Homo sapiens: one gene and its partner. The protein of the gene in region 2 interacts with the protein of the main gene of each other region in a pairwise test. Each region holds a gene or a part of one and is shown on either strand. Other genes may lie near its edges.

The links.
Region 1: the proteins of RYK (region 2) and PTPRR interact in a two-hybrid assay, tested with the Homo sapiens proteins (one study listed by BioGRID and IntAct).

What each region holds. Positions count from the first base shown.
Region 1 is NC_000012.12:70,889,212-70,896,852, forward strand, and holds part of PTPRR (receptor-type tyrosine-protein phosphatase R isoform 1 precursor), read right to left. Parts: intron 3,767-7,641; coding exon 3,468-3,766; intron 1-3,467. UniProt on the Homo sapiens protein: Sequesters mitogen-activated protein kinases (MAPKs) such as MAPK1, MAPK3 and MAPK14 in the cytoplasm in an inactive form.
Region 2 is NC_000003.12:134,156,456-134,164,096, forward strand, and holds the end of RYK (tyrosine-protein kinase RYK isoform 2 precursor), read right to left. Parts: intron 2,919-7,641; coding exon 2,782-2,918; intron 1,810-2,781; coding exon 1,698-1,809; 3' UTR 678-1,697; downstream 1-677. UniProt on the Homo sapiens protein: May be a coreceptor along with FZD8 of Wnt proteins, such as WNT1, WNT3, WNT3A and WNT5A. Involved in neuron differentiation, axon guidance, corpus callosum establishment and neurite outgrowth.

The DNA of each region.
Region 1 (7,641 bases), on a different chromosome or scaffold from region 2:
ATATAAAATTATAATTAAACCAATTTGTCTATTGAAAAAGTATCCAACAGTTATTTATCCACATCACACAGTAAATGCTACAGAATTTCTTTACAGTGGCAAAGCAATGAGAAAGCCGGACTTTCAAAGCCCTTCACATAATGTCTAGAGATTATCACTTTACTTATAAGATGAATCCAAAAGGTAGTCAACAGCAGAACAAAGCTGAGGCATGCCATAAACCCGAGTTTAGAATGTAATTAAAACCCATAGCTATCACACGTTTTTGGATTTAATAGCTTTCTAAGTCAAATACCTGACAAAAAGTATTTGCAAAGAATTTTCTGTGTCACAGAAACAATAGAATGTCTGTCTATATGTTGATCTGGGTGAGTGGTGAGCAAGACAAGAAATTTTAGGATTCTAGGATCTCAAGGAGAGGATCGCAAGCCCCTGGAAACTCATCATCTTCCTATGTGCTCACAGAATGCTTCCTGCTTCCCTAAAAACTGCCTCTGTATCCTCTCCTCCCTTCTCCCCCCGCTTCTTTTTCCCTTCTTTCCTTGCCTCCTTTCCTTCTCCTGCTGCTCTTCTTCCTGTTTCTTCTCCTCCATCTTCTCCTTTCCTTTATTTTTCTTACCCATGAGTCCATCTCACAGAGTAAATCATAATCTTCCCATTTCCATGCCGTTTCACTGATGTCAAAAACCACCCCTTATATTCCCAAGCCTTACTAATCCTCAGTTTGCTCAGATTTCTGTCCAGGCTAGAACATTCTTCACTCAGCAGCCTATGCTGAACTGAAATGGCCTGTAGTTGCTACCATTCCACCATTTTCACTTGCACCTCTGGGTTCCCTCCTTCCTGGTGTTGTGGCCTTGTGTCTTGACAAATATCCTGAGGATCCAGTGACAAGAGCTATGGATTTTACAGCATACTTTCATCTAAAGCGGTATTTTTTTCCTCTTACCATAGTACTGACCTTGAGGCATTCAATATCTTCTCTACATTGTACTTGCACAGAAATCCTAATAACAGCTTCTTAATTGAGTTCCGGAACATAGTTAGCATTATTTGGGATAAACATTCTAATTGTGTTGTACTCTCCTTGTAACAAATAAACTATAAATTTTCCTGATTACTAATAAAAAGAAGAAAGAGGGAAAAAATTCATTTGTGGATAAATGCTCTTATGAAATGCTTTGCGGTGGCAATTGGGAATCAGGAAGGGAGGAGAGACACAACTTTCATGCCCTTTTTAAAGGTAGCATTCTAAAACTCATTGCCAATGATAGTTGAAACAAGAAAGAAAAAAGTATTGGAGGAAAAATGCTTGATCCTTCCTTCTGAGCTAGGAAGTCTTAGAAGTTACATATAAAGTTTAGAGGTTGAGTGTAGCTTTTTACCCTGGCTGGAAAAAAAATGCCTATAATTTCTCCAGTTCAAGACACTGATAGTCAGAACATGGTCTATTTGAGTATAAATTAAGTCTCAAAATAATTCTTAGTACCACTGCAATATCCCTCAAACAAGAAGGTCTGCATTGATGTATATGTTTTATACTCATGTACATATGATAAGCACAAACACACATCAATTATTCCATTAAAGTCATTATGCTGCCCCAGAATATATCCCTTGCTTCCTGTATGCCCCATCCATACATCCATTTTCTGTATGGAATGGGTCTTCAAATCAGCTGACATTTAATTGCATCACCCCTTTGCTTTTTGAGGAAGCTAAACATTATTGATTTATTTAAAAAATAACCCTGCCTCCCCAGTTTTGCTGCTAAATCATCATGCACATAAGTAATCTAAGTGGATTGCAGGAAACATTAGGACTGGCAATTGGTGTTGCCAGCTACCAAAGCCACAGCATGGTCAGAGGCTAGGGAAAGCTAATGCAGCAAAATTGCCTATTGCCTCTATGTAATCATCACCCCAAAGGAAAAGCACAGCTTCTTCATCAATCTCCAAACCACAAATAAGCTGAAAGTGAAATGACCTGCCAGAATTCCTCATTGGTGCCTTTTATTGTCCATGATATTAAATTAACTAGACAGTACATGACATTACAAGATAGAACAAGCCTCTTGAACTGTAATTCACAGTGACTTTAAGAGTTGATGACTATGGGTATATGATGGTCACTAAGGAAATATCTCCCATGAGCCCTAGCATTAACAGGAGCATCTCCAGATACAGAGACATCATTAACATCATTTATCTTCACTGAATAGACAGAGTACATGACTTTCACCTTCAGAACATCTGCTACTCATGTAAATGCAGAAAACTTGTTCAAGTATTTCAGGATGCCAAGTGACCCACATATTTTCTCTTAACAAGAGTTCATCTTGTGTTCTTAGCTTATGATTTTTATTGAATTATTGATATTTCCCTCTGGACATTTTCCAAGCAAAACAAGAGACTGTATTTCATTTGTCTCTGTTTCCAGATATCCCAAGGGGAAACTAGATCATAATAAATACTGAGTGTATGCTAGCTGAAAACATTGACGAATGGAACTTTGATTCTCAATATTAAGTAAAGTATACTATATGTAGTAGGTTAAAAAAATAAAGAAAAAAAAGAAGCTTGTTAGATTTAATTACATTTGGTGCATAGAGGAGTTGCCAAAATGCAAACATGGTTTCATTGAATTATCTTGGCCACACAAATCAACTCATTTGATTATATTTTGGAGCAGAGATGCAATAACAACCATTTAACTACTGATTTGTAGTTTCAATGTGGATCCTTCTATAATGATGTTAAACCAGAGAGTGACTGTAGTTCAAATAGGGTGTCAACCTCAGTATGTATTTAAACTATGATAACCTCCACAATTTGGAAACCTCTGACCTGGGTTATACAAGCAAGGGAACTTTAAGAACATAAGCAATGGGATCATTGTATCACTTTTATTAATAAAGAATGGTTATTATTCAGTAATATCAAAAATGTTATCTATCAATTACTCCCAACTCATTTTATTTGCTCCAGTGACAGAAAACTACTCTCCCTCTACCACACCTCCCCTTTCAGTTGTCTTATTTATTGTAATTTGAGTCAAGTGACCAGAGGATCTTCAATAAGTATTATTTATTTACACAGGCTGAGACTAAGGCCTATCTGCTTAAAACAGATTCTCACAGAAGGTAGGAGGCTCAGTACAAGATATAATCAACTATAATTGTAAGGCCTTCCTAAAGTAATCTTTTATTCAAATATTTATTAAGCATCTACCATGTACCATGCATTCTGCTATGAGCGGAGGATACAGACAAGTTTTCTGATTTCGTAAGAGGAAGAAAACAGACAACAGTCAAGTAAGAAATTAGAAGTACCACAGAATAAGTGCTGTGGTACATACCCGTTGGGATTCATTGATAACTATTCACAATCAGTGTTTTTCTTTTTTCAAGCATCAATGACAGGAAAGAATCAACATCAGCCTCAGCATCAGTTTAACATACTACTTACCACCACAATTACATTTGCTGCTGGGATTGGGAGATTTTCCACTTCAAGATCTTGACCATCCATGGCCAGCAGATTGAGAGACGGGTCATATGCGGGTCTAGGAAATGCTGAATTGACAATCTGGTGGCGTTTGCTTACTTGAGCTTCGGAAGAGGAATGGTAGCTATGTCTGTAGATTTTTTGTGGGGCTATATCCAGGCTCTTCTCAATGTCTTGTGAATGCTTATAAATGAATACCGGCTTCCCACTCTTCTTCTGATTAATTGCCAAAAAATGATCATTGTTTCCTGAAAAGCACCCTGAAAGAGGGAAGAAGCAGAAACAATATCAAAGACCCTATTCAGTAAGAGAGGTAGATATATCTGATGAAGAGGATTACCCTTTCTTGAGAGGCTTTAAGACTTGTGAAGGATTTAGGTTAGTCTCCATATTTCTTTGTCTGCTTCATGATCCTCAACAAATAGTATACACCTGGTGGTATGAAGGCCTCTCAAAGACTTTAGGTGGATAAAAGTGGGCGTACTTTGAAAAAGTTCTATTTTTCAGATATTCTGATGCCACTTTTACTAAGAAATTTCCTCCTTTATCTACACCCATAGTTTCAATACCTACTTGGGCTTCTATTCCTGGATGTCCTATCTGCTGCTGAAATTATAAATATTTTTATCATATTTAAGCTTTCCTTAAATATAAGCATTTCCTACAATTCTTATTTCATACTTATTGCTTGTATTACAATGAACAGTTTTCTTCACGCTTACAGAGTATTTAAGCTCTCTGAGGTAAGAAATCTGAGTGTACTTATTGTGGTAGCAACTTTCAGTAGTCCAAACAATATCCATCGTCTCCTTACTTGTGTAAGTAATATGGCCATCTAGATAGAGACTACATTTCTCTCAGTCTTCCCTGCAACTAAGCATTGCCATTTGATCAAGTTATAGCTATTGGAATGTGAGTAAACAGATGTTAGCAGAGATGTGATATGGCCTTCCTTTCTACATTTCCTCTTTTGTGCTGGCTGAAATGCAGAGAGTCTGGTAGGAGCATGAGGTAGAAACCATGTGTCAAAGATGGTAGAGCACTAAGACAAAATATTCTGATCCCTGATGAAAGTGAAACTACCATACCAACCTCACAGTTCCCACTCTGATTTTTAGAGAGAAAAACAATATTCTATTGTTTTACCTGCTATTATTTTAAGTATCTTTGTTAGAGCAATTGAATTTATTTAGTAACAAATACATTCATCTTTATTTCTTCTGTTAGATAAATATTCATTGCATTGAATAATGGCTTCTCCTGTTTGCTACTGGCCACAGGAGGAAACAGATAATACATATGAATCAAAAAGAATATTACTAGGTCAAATACCAGTTAGAAAAGCAAACATGAGATCTGTTTTATAACATAGTCCCTAGCAATGGTACCCCAGATTTTCACTGGAAATGCTTGTGGTAACAAGTGCTGTCCTTAGAAAATTACTTACCTCTTTTTACAAGAATTCTTCTCCAATCTCCTACTATTTTTATCTTTTACTTCCCAAATCATGCAAGCGTCTGTACTTTATTTTGTTTTTCTTGCAAATTTCAGCTATTTACATGCCCAAATTCAATAGAATTATCATGGCAGATCTAGTACTCATGCTACTGGGCATTTAAATTTCTCTATTTTCTCTTAGGTGAGAGACCCACGTTCATTTATGCATACAATATACCTTTCCCAAAGCACAGAATCACCTCTACATCAGTGGTATTAGAAAAGTAAACCAGGATGAAAGTAGTATATTATTTTATTTCTTAACCCCAAAGGAATCACTTCATTGTAGTGATATCAGATAGTTTTTCAGAGGGAAAGAAGAAAATTACTCTCCTTTCAGAAATGTAGAAACTCTTCTAGGACACTACAATATTATTTAGTAAATTATTTTTAGTAAAATAATAAATACACACCTTGTGGTCAGAAAGTTCATATACATCTAAAACATTTTGGCACCATTTTCCATTGATAAAACAGTGGTAAGAACAACAACATTGAGATATCCTGTTCTGAATTCCATTATACTACATATGTTCTTAATGAGAGTTTCATTTCCAAATCCGAGGAACTCATTTAATATGGAGAAATAAAATGTACAATTATTTAAGGGTCATCATTGTCCAATCATCATCTTTGGCAAACTATGGGTGGCTTGATTGTTTTAAAAAAGTTATGGTCAATTTAGCATGCTCGGAACTGAAGACATGATGATTAGTTTCCATTACTATTTCAGGATCCACATAAAATATAATTCAAGTGGTCCAAAAAGATAAAGCTACTGGTAACAGAAGATGATTCTCATACTATTATATCGTGGAATAAAGCACTTGGGCTAAGAAAATAACCCATCTTTATAACCCCACATGAAAGTTGAAGGGATACGGGTGAAACAGAGTTGCTGAAGATGTAAGACGTATATGTTGGTCACACAAGGCTTGATGGAAAGCAAAGCCTGTAAAAACTAGCAATTCCTCTACTCTGGATTCTCTATAAATAGTAAATAAAAAGAAAAAAGCAGCTTAGAAGATTGGGGAAAGTAGATATCTTAAAAGAGGAGAAATAACTGACAAACTGAGTAAATTACACAAATATCTTCAATCTTTCTTTTTATATATTATCAATCACACCAAGTCTTTTCAGAGCCACTTTATCTAAATAGAAAAGTCCAGTTAATAAATGCATGCTAAAATTGGCCTACCGAGAAAGGGACAAAATCTAAGTTGAAGCGCAATTGAAACACAATGAAAATTTTCCAACCTTATCCACTTGTCTGTGTGAATGAACTTAGTCCTGCCTTGTTCCTGAGTAATGAGTTCTAAGATAGCAGTGTAATATTAGGTGTCCTACCACAATCATTAGGTAAGAAAAAAAATTTCATAGTGCTGTCCTTAGGTTCTCTGTATCAGAGCTACCCGGGACATGATGATACAGTTTCTTAGACCCCAGACTAGAACTACCAAAGCATAATCTCTATAGATGTAGCCTAGGAATCTGGATTTATAATAGAATTCTTATGTTCAAACTCTGATGTTTGAGGACCACTGACCTAATGTCTGGAATTGGTTTTGTATTTTCTATCCTCAAATGCTACCTATTTCCTCCTTCACTTCAGCTTTATGAATATACTCAAGTAAAAATTTTGGAAAAGTGAAGACTGAGAAGCCAAGTTATCTATTAGTGAAGCCGTAATTCTAAAGCAGCCAACAATCATAGCTCTTTTCCCTCTCTCTCCTATCAATACCTGACCCTGGACTCAGATGCAGGTGTAGAAGCGCAAGAAACTCACTTCAAATATAATGATATGGACACATTTAAAGTGAAAGAGTGAAAAGCAACATATCATGAAAACCTAATCAAAAGAAACCTGGAGTGACTATATTAATATCAATTCAGCACAAAGAAATTCCCAAGGATAAAGAGGGACATTACATAATGATGGACATATGATGCAATGTACATAAGAATACATAATATTCCTAAATATATATGCATCAAAAATGAGCTTAAAATTCATGGAGCAAAGCTGACAAAAATGAAAGGAGAAATGGGAAAATTCACAATTATCATTGAAGATTTTAACTGTTCCCTCTCAATAGTAAGTAGATTGAGGAGAAAGAAAAGAAGCAAAGGCAAGGTTGTAAAAGAACACCACCATCAACCAACTGGATTTAATAGGTGTTTATAGAACACACAACCCAAAACACCAGAATACACAATCTTTTCACGTTCTTATGGGGTATTCATCTAGACAGATCATATACTGGGCCATAAAATAACACATGTTGAAAACTGAAATTATACAAGGTATACTCTTTGACCATGAAGGAATTAAACTAGGAATCAGTAACAGAAAGAAAAGAAGAATATTTCCAAAATTTGGAAATTAAAAAAACACATTTCTAAATATCCATGGGCCAAAGAGAAAGTCACAAGACAAATTAGAACATATTTTGAACTGAACTAAAATAAAAATATAACATATCCTGAATGGTATTGCCTAGGTTTTCTTCTAGGGTTTTTACGGTTTTAGGTCTAACATGTAAGTCTTTAATCCATCTTGAATTAATTTTTGTATCAGGTGTAAGGAAGGGATCCAGTTTCAGCTTTCTACATATGGCTAGCCAGTTTTCCCAGCACC
Region 2 (7,641 bases):
GAAGGGACGCTTGAGTTGAACCACTCCATGTGGAAAATACACAGTAAGTGCTGTAAATGTTGACTGAATGCCTTCTAAGAATGCAGGTTATGAATGAAAATATAATTTACAAATGGTTCAAAGGGACCTTTTAAAAAACAGTACTCCAGGGACTGGCTTCATATGAGTATTTCATAAAACCAAAGAACTGTTAATAAATGTACACAGAAAATCATGCCCTTGGCTTACTTGTGGAAAACCAGGTACTATGTGAGCTATTTTTCCCGATGTGCTGCTGATTCATAAGGCTTTTTTAAAAACAGCAAAAGCCTCCAACTGCTACACATTCTCCCTTATATACCTCTGAAGATGGGAGTAGTGGCAGGTACCTGCAGGCCTAGCTATTTAGAAAGCCCATTCAACTCTGCTTTAGGCCAACTAAAACTGAGCATAAATACATACATATCCCTTACTTGCTGGTTCTGGAGAAATGTTTCAGTGTTTTAATACTTCCTTATAACATTAATTCCAACTTTTTACTAGAACCTGGAGTCTGAGCCAGCTTAACTGTGTTAGGGCTTTGGAACTTGACTGGAACATCATGAAATAAAACACAAATGTCTGGCTGTTGAATGTTCAAAGACTTACCAGACACAATAACCAATCATTCATTATGAAAAATAATTTCAATACTGTCATAATATAAAACAAATCCTTTAATTTTTCAAGTGTTTAAAAAACAATTTTATACTTAAGCCAGCCTTGAAGATAAGCACAAAATTTACCAGTTTACATTTAAAAAACAAACAAAAAACGACAACAACTCAAGCACCCGCTCTGTGCATAGCACTATTCTAGGTGCAATAAAAGGGAATCTTAACCTTAGAAATATGAGTTCACTTTCTGGAATTGTATTATCTCCTTTTCCAGAGAGTAAAAATAAATAAAATCACCATTGTTTACTACAGATCTGCCCCAAACCACATCTGGTTCACAGAAAGGCTAATTTCTGCCAAATTAAAGATGTAATGAACTCAGTTCCTGCTTTCCCAAAAACACGAAAGCAGAATTCCTTTTCACTGAAAAAAATAAACAGTTTTCCATGCAAGGGCAGTTTGCTTCTAATAAGTATTTTTAAAAAAATTTTTTTTTCCTCTAGCTTTTCTTTAAATTTTCTTCCTCTAATATTGCCTTTTCTTGTACAAGGCAGACCAGGTATCTTTTTATGCTGTTTTTCCTTTACTAAGAAAAGTATTGCATCTTGAAGACAAACCATTTCCCAGAGTAGTGATAAAAAATAACACTAAAAAAACTTTAAAGGTGAGTCACTTACATCACCTTGATGAAGTAAAAAAATAAAAAGCAGTTGGCACTAAGATAGCTAATTCCAAATATCTGTGTCTAAACAATTTTAAAAACTGTTTATTTATTTTGTAAGAATGTACCCCTAGTCCAAAGTAAGTATGTTTTAAAAAATTTTGGCCAAAAAATTTACAAAAACCCTTTCAGTTCAACCTAATAAAAGTGATATCTAGAAAATATGCCACATTATTAAGTCTGTCTTAAAAAGTTCAGATTCTAAAGCATTTCTAAGGCACGGTGTTCTGGAAGACAAATGTGCTTCTGTTGGCGTTGTGTTAGATACAAAGCATCCCTGACAGGCTTCAAGTGAGCCCCGACAGGCACCTTCTTCCTGATGGTGTGGGATTGGAGAGGAGTCAGACGTAGGCCCCCAGGGCTGCATGAAACTCTGTTAGGCACTGTACCAGCTGCTGAAACTTGGGCCTCTCCTCTGGATCTAAGGCCCAGCAACAGGCCATCACAGCAAATCTGCAGAGTGACAAAAATGAAAATTTGGGCTAGTAAGGATACAGTATTCATAACTTTTGCTCAGTTTGATGCCAGTTATGTTGCCTGTCTAAAGGTGGGTATGGAGAGGATGATATATTAAAAACGGATCCATTTTACTATCTGTTGGCAGCTCTAGAAAGAAGCTAAAAGAAATTATTTGGATTATGTGTGAATTTCAATTCTTCATGACAACATATCAAAATATTTCAGCAAATACAGAGATTTCATGTAAAAACCTAAAACACAGTAAAAAAAGAATGTGTGTTTTCCTGTAGTTAAATTAAGAAAAGAACTTGGAGGAAGAGAAAGTTTTATCTAAGTTCTATGAACCCTGGATCTAGAGTAAAATCAGTACAAAAGCTGCCACCTTGTCATGGTGCAGAAACCTTCAGGAGGTTCTGGAACTGAGAATATACTCATCTGTACGATCAATCACCCTGCATAGCCTCCTGTTTATCCCATTCTCATTACATGGCAAGATAAGCTATGTGATAGAAGCAGGAAACAGAAAGCAACTATTTGGCTTACTAGTCCAGATCATCTTCCCTGTATTAGCTGATACTAACTGGCAAGGCAAAATGACAACGAGAGAGGTTTTTTATAACTACTATGTCCTTTATAACTACTTTATAACTATAAAAGTCAGATACTCACTTTATATAGAATAACTGACGTAGCATTCAATTTTCTTAGTACGTCCTCTCAGACTAATTTATAGTGCTTAGATTATGCACTATAAAATAAAATGCAAGACGTTCTAATATCAAATGCATGAAAGAGTGAACGAATCTCCCTGACTTTGTGGTTTTTTATAAGAGTCTAATTTAAATCCAAAGAGTCATTATTCTCAAAAGGGAAGGCTCTGTGTGAATATGGAAACCTGCTCTTTTTCCTTTATTCCAATATAGTAAATGGAATAAAACTCATGCCTTCAAGCTCAAAAAAACTCACAATTCATCAGGACAGTTGATTGGCTGGGCTATTCGGTAACCATCTTTCAGGTATGCGGCCATCTCGAAGGGGTCAATGTCCACGTAGGGAGTCTGGCCCAGAGTCATGAGTTCCCACAGCGTCACTCCAAAGGCCCACTAGTAAAGGAGCAGAAGCACAATGAGGGGACATTTAAAACAACAGTCAGGGGGCTAGCGCCCACAGCCAGCTACAGGACAAAAAATAACAGCTCAACTCATGCTTTGGAAAAGCGAAATGTTATTTACAAAAAAATGTCTATCATACACAGTTAGTTTCCCTTGCTAAGATAAAAAAGAGTGCATCCAATATTAGTATTATAAATTCTAAGTAATTAGATCCATTGGAAGTAATAGTTTACTGTTGATTACAAGCTACGTATTATGAATTATGTCCAAGATTCTTCTAATATGAGAATTTGTAACTTTAAATATTATAGCTAGTCTGCATAATTGAGAAGTGGAAAATGAACAGAATTTTAGTTTAATTAAAGGGAAGAGCATCCTAAGTGAAATACGCAAATGAGGGGAAATATAAGAAGTCATGGATTTTTACTGTATTTAAAGTTTTAAATTAAAGGATTAAAAAAACTTCCAACCTTGCTTGAGTAAGCAATCAGGTTTATTTAAAATCAGCAGGTAAACTACAGAAAGGAACAGGAATAGTAAACAGTGGCAACAGTGTCCATTCATGGTCCGTTCGGGGCTCTCCATTTTGGCCAATTCCTGGCTGTACTTGGCTCCTGGAGAGCGTGCAGGGGGCGGGGGGCAGGCAACGTCTCTACACAGAGCTGCTGCCACATGGCTGGGAAGGACTCAGATCCGGTACATCCACTGATCTGCCGCCAAGTGTGAACCCTGAGGTCAGAACAACTGAACTTGGATGAGGAGGGGGATACCTGTGTACTGTAGTATCAGGTTTATGAGTACCTACAAATTCAAATCATTTTGCATCCTTCAATACATTTAATTTCCTCAATAAACCTGTGAGAATCATTGGTAGCTCAATTTTACAGGTGAGAAAACTGAGGCTCAGAGAAATAGCTTGCCCCAAAATACATATTTTAATGAGTAAAAGAGAAAAAAGTGAAAAAAAGAAAAGGAAAAAAGAGAAATACCAAACGCAAGTCAAATACAAGTCTGTTTGTAAAATCTAAACATGTTGCATTAAATTTTAGGTTATTATTTTTCAATAACAACAAAATCCCAAAATACTTTGTAAAATACACAGATTTTTTTAAAAGCCTTATAATAGTGAACAATAGCTACATTTCCCCCCAGAATCTATGCAAACAAGAAAACAATGAAATGACATATTTTAAAATATTTTAGGGCCAGGCACGGTGGCTCACACCTGTAATCCCAGCACTTTGGGAGGATTATCTGAGGTCAGGAGTTCAAGATCAGCCATGACCAACATAGAGAAACCCCATCTCTACTAAAAATACAAAATTATCTGGGCATGGTGGCGCATGCCTGTAATCCCAGCTACTCGGGAGGCTGAAGCAGGAGAATCGCTTAAACCCGGGAGGCGGAGGTTGCGGTGAGCCGAGATCGCGCCACTGCACTCCAGCCTGGGCAACAAAGCGAGACTCTGTCTCAAAGAAAGAAAAAAAAATTAAAAACTGTCATGGAAAGTTCTATATAGAGCCAAAATATACTTCAACAATGAAGATAAATACAGAGTTTTTCAGACAAATAAAAGCAGAGAGACTATGTTTCCAGCAGACCTGTAAGATGTATGAAAGCAGTTCTTCATGTGGAAAGAAAATATACCACATGGAAATCTGAGTCAACACAAAGAATACAGAGTGCTGAAAATATATTAGTAACAACTGAACATATTCTCTTATGTTAAAATTTCCTTGACAGACTATTTAAAGCAAAAACAGCTAACAATATATCGTGGGGTTTATAATATACAGAGAAGTAAAAGGTATGCCCACAACCAGTTTGAAGACTGGAAGGGGATGAATGGAAACACTATATTAAACATGAAATGATATAATATTTTTGGAAAATAGAAGGTTTACACTATAAAGCCTAGAGTAGGTTTTTTAACCTCAGCACTACTGATATTGTGGGCTGGAGGATTCTTTGCTGTGAGAAGCTGTCCTGTGCATTGTAGGATGTTTAGCATTCTCCCTGGGCTCTACCCACTAGATGATAGTAGCACATCCTCCAAGCTGTGACAACCCAAAATGCCTCCGGACATAGCCAAATGTCCCTTGGCACAGACAAATGTCCTTAGCCAGAGCAAAACTGTCCCAGTTAAGAACCACTGTGTTAGACTGAACAACAACAAAAAATTTAAAATATCAGAAATAAAGGAGGGAACACCATCCTTTAAGACATCAAAAAATATTATGAACAATCCAATTTTATGCCAATAAATTCAGCAACTTAAATGAAATAAACAAATTTCTTAAAATACAAATTACCAAAACAGACACAGGAGTAAACAGAACATCTATATAGCCCTACATCTATTAAAGATACTGAATTCACAATTCAAAACCTTTCCACAAAGAAAACTCAACACTGTTTGGTGAATTCTATCAAACTTGAAAGAAAATATAAATCTGTATTAGTTTTCTAGGGCTACCATAATAACATACCACAAACGAGTAGTTTAAACAACAGAAATTTATTGTCCCACTGCTCTGATAGCTAGAAGTCCAAATCAATGTGTCAGCGTGGCTGTGCTTCCCCGGAAACCTGTAGGGGGAATCTTTCCTTGCCTATTCCCAGCTTCCTGTGGTTGCCGGAAGCCCCTGGTGTGTCTTGGTTTGCAGCTGCAGCCCTGCAGTCCCTGCCTCTATCTTCACGTGACATTTTCTCCTCATGTGTGTGTCTCTTTTCTTAGGGTGGATTAGAGCTCATACTCATTGAGTATGACCTCATCTTAACGTTACATCTGCAATGACCCTATTTCCAAATAAGGTCACATTCTGAGGTACTGGGGGTTAGGGCTTCAACCATTTTTTTTTTTTTTTTGGTGGAGACGCAGGACACAATTCAACCCATTACACACCCAACCCTACGTAAACTTTCAGAACACAGAGGAAGGAATATATCTCATTCACTTTGACAGCAGCATTACCCTAAATACCAAAAACAGGTGGTCAGCCTTTTGGAACCTATTATCTTTTTCATTAACAGTGATCATTAACATGGAGCAAAGTCCAGCCTTGAAGTCTATGCTCTGGGAGGAGGGGGCAGGCGACAGATGGAGAAGCGTGTATAGTTTCAAAATCTCCACAGAGTCTTGGAGGCTACTGAAATTTCCCTTACACCTACTGGGACATTCTATTCTGCTTAAAAATGGAAAAATGATTTCAAATTAATAAAAGTTAAAGGATGGTGCCTGCTCACAACTAGTTATTTGCCTATCTTTAAAACCTTACTGTATATGAAACTTTTTTCTGAGAAGCAACAAGATCTACATGAAATCTTAATACTGACAGTCATTAGTAAATGCAATGCTTTATTTTTAAAATCGTGTCCAATTTCCATAGAGAAGGTAGTTCCCTGCACAGATGGAACAGAGCCCAAAGAAATGAAACTGGTCGGAAGGGTGCTCCCATCCCTTCCTCCAGAGATGAAATGATCCATTCAAACTAGATTTTGGAAGAAGAAACCATGGGAATTGGTGACAAGTGCATCCTGACTCTTTGTACACAGGGAATAACCCCATCCACTGACATTATAACACCTTCTGACTTTAAGGGACTTTGATATTAAAGTTGGTGGTATTTGAGATCTGGAGTTGAATGTAAGTATTACAGCAGCAATGTAGATAAGCTTTTAAAAATTACTCCCTTCCCACTGTTTTGTTCACATTACTGCCCAACATTTACCTAAGGTTTTCATATTACAACTACAACACTAAAAGACGCCATAAAAAAGAACAGTCAAGCCAAAGGGAACAATGCAGTTTCATTTCCTTAAAAACTAACAAAAGTGATTAATTACATGTTGGCAAACCAACCCTTAAAAAAATAATCAAGACAAAATGGCGCAGAGATGATTTGTGGAAAACTTGCTCTCTAAGGTCTTCCGATAACTGAACCATTTAAAATTTAGACAGACTTATTCTATAATTTCCTTCTGTTTGACGTCGGTGGAAAGGGGGCAATAAGAAGGTCATGCTGTTCTTTCCAGAGTTTTACGAAAGATTGTGGCTATCTCCATTTAAAGAACATTTAGATAATTATAATGTTATTCTATTCATCTTATTCCTCTCCCCAGAACATGTTATTTTACAGCTTCTATATATAAGATGTAAAACAGTTTTTCCACTAAAACATATATGAATGTGACTTGTCAAAAAGTATGTAAGTAAAATTCCTTTTTTCTTTTAGTGCAGCATTAACTAAAGATGGAGCTACTGAATTAAGACATTTCCAGTGATTACTTCAGGAACTTACAATGCAAGGCTCACTTCAGTAAACTATAAACTGAAAGGAAAATAATTCCATTCAATTGTAAATTATCTTATCTGACCACAGTGGAAGCATCATCAGGTGGTCCATGGCTAGGCCTTTCTGTTCATATTAGAAACCTAATATCCCTTTCTCACATAAAGACATGGCTGCAGATTACCAAAGTGCAATTAAATGAACCTGGGTTAAGTGTTTTATAAGAAGGAGAAGAATTATCTGGGGTGCTTGCTAAAAAGTCCAGTTCCTCTGTCCTATCTTAATAATTCTGAAGCCTGGATCACATTATTTTATTTAATTAATTATTTATTTGCATTTTTAGCAGAAATGGGGTTTTACCATGTTGGCCAGGCTGGTCTCGAACTCCTGGTTTCAAGTGATCCACCAGCCGTGGCCTCCCA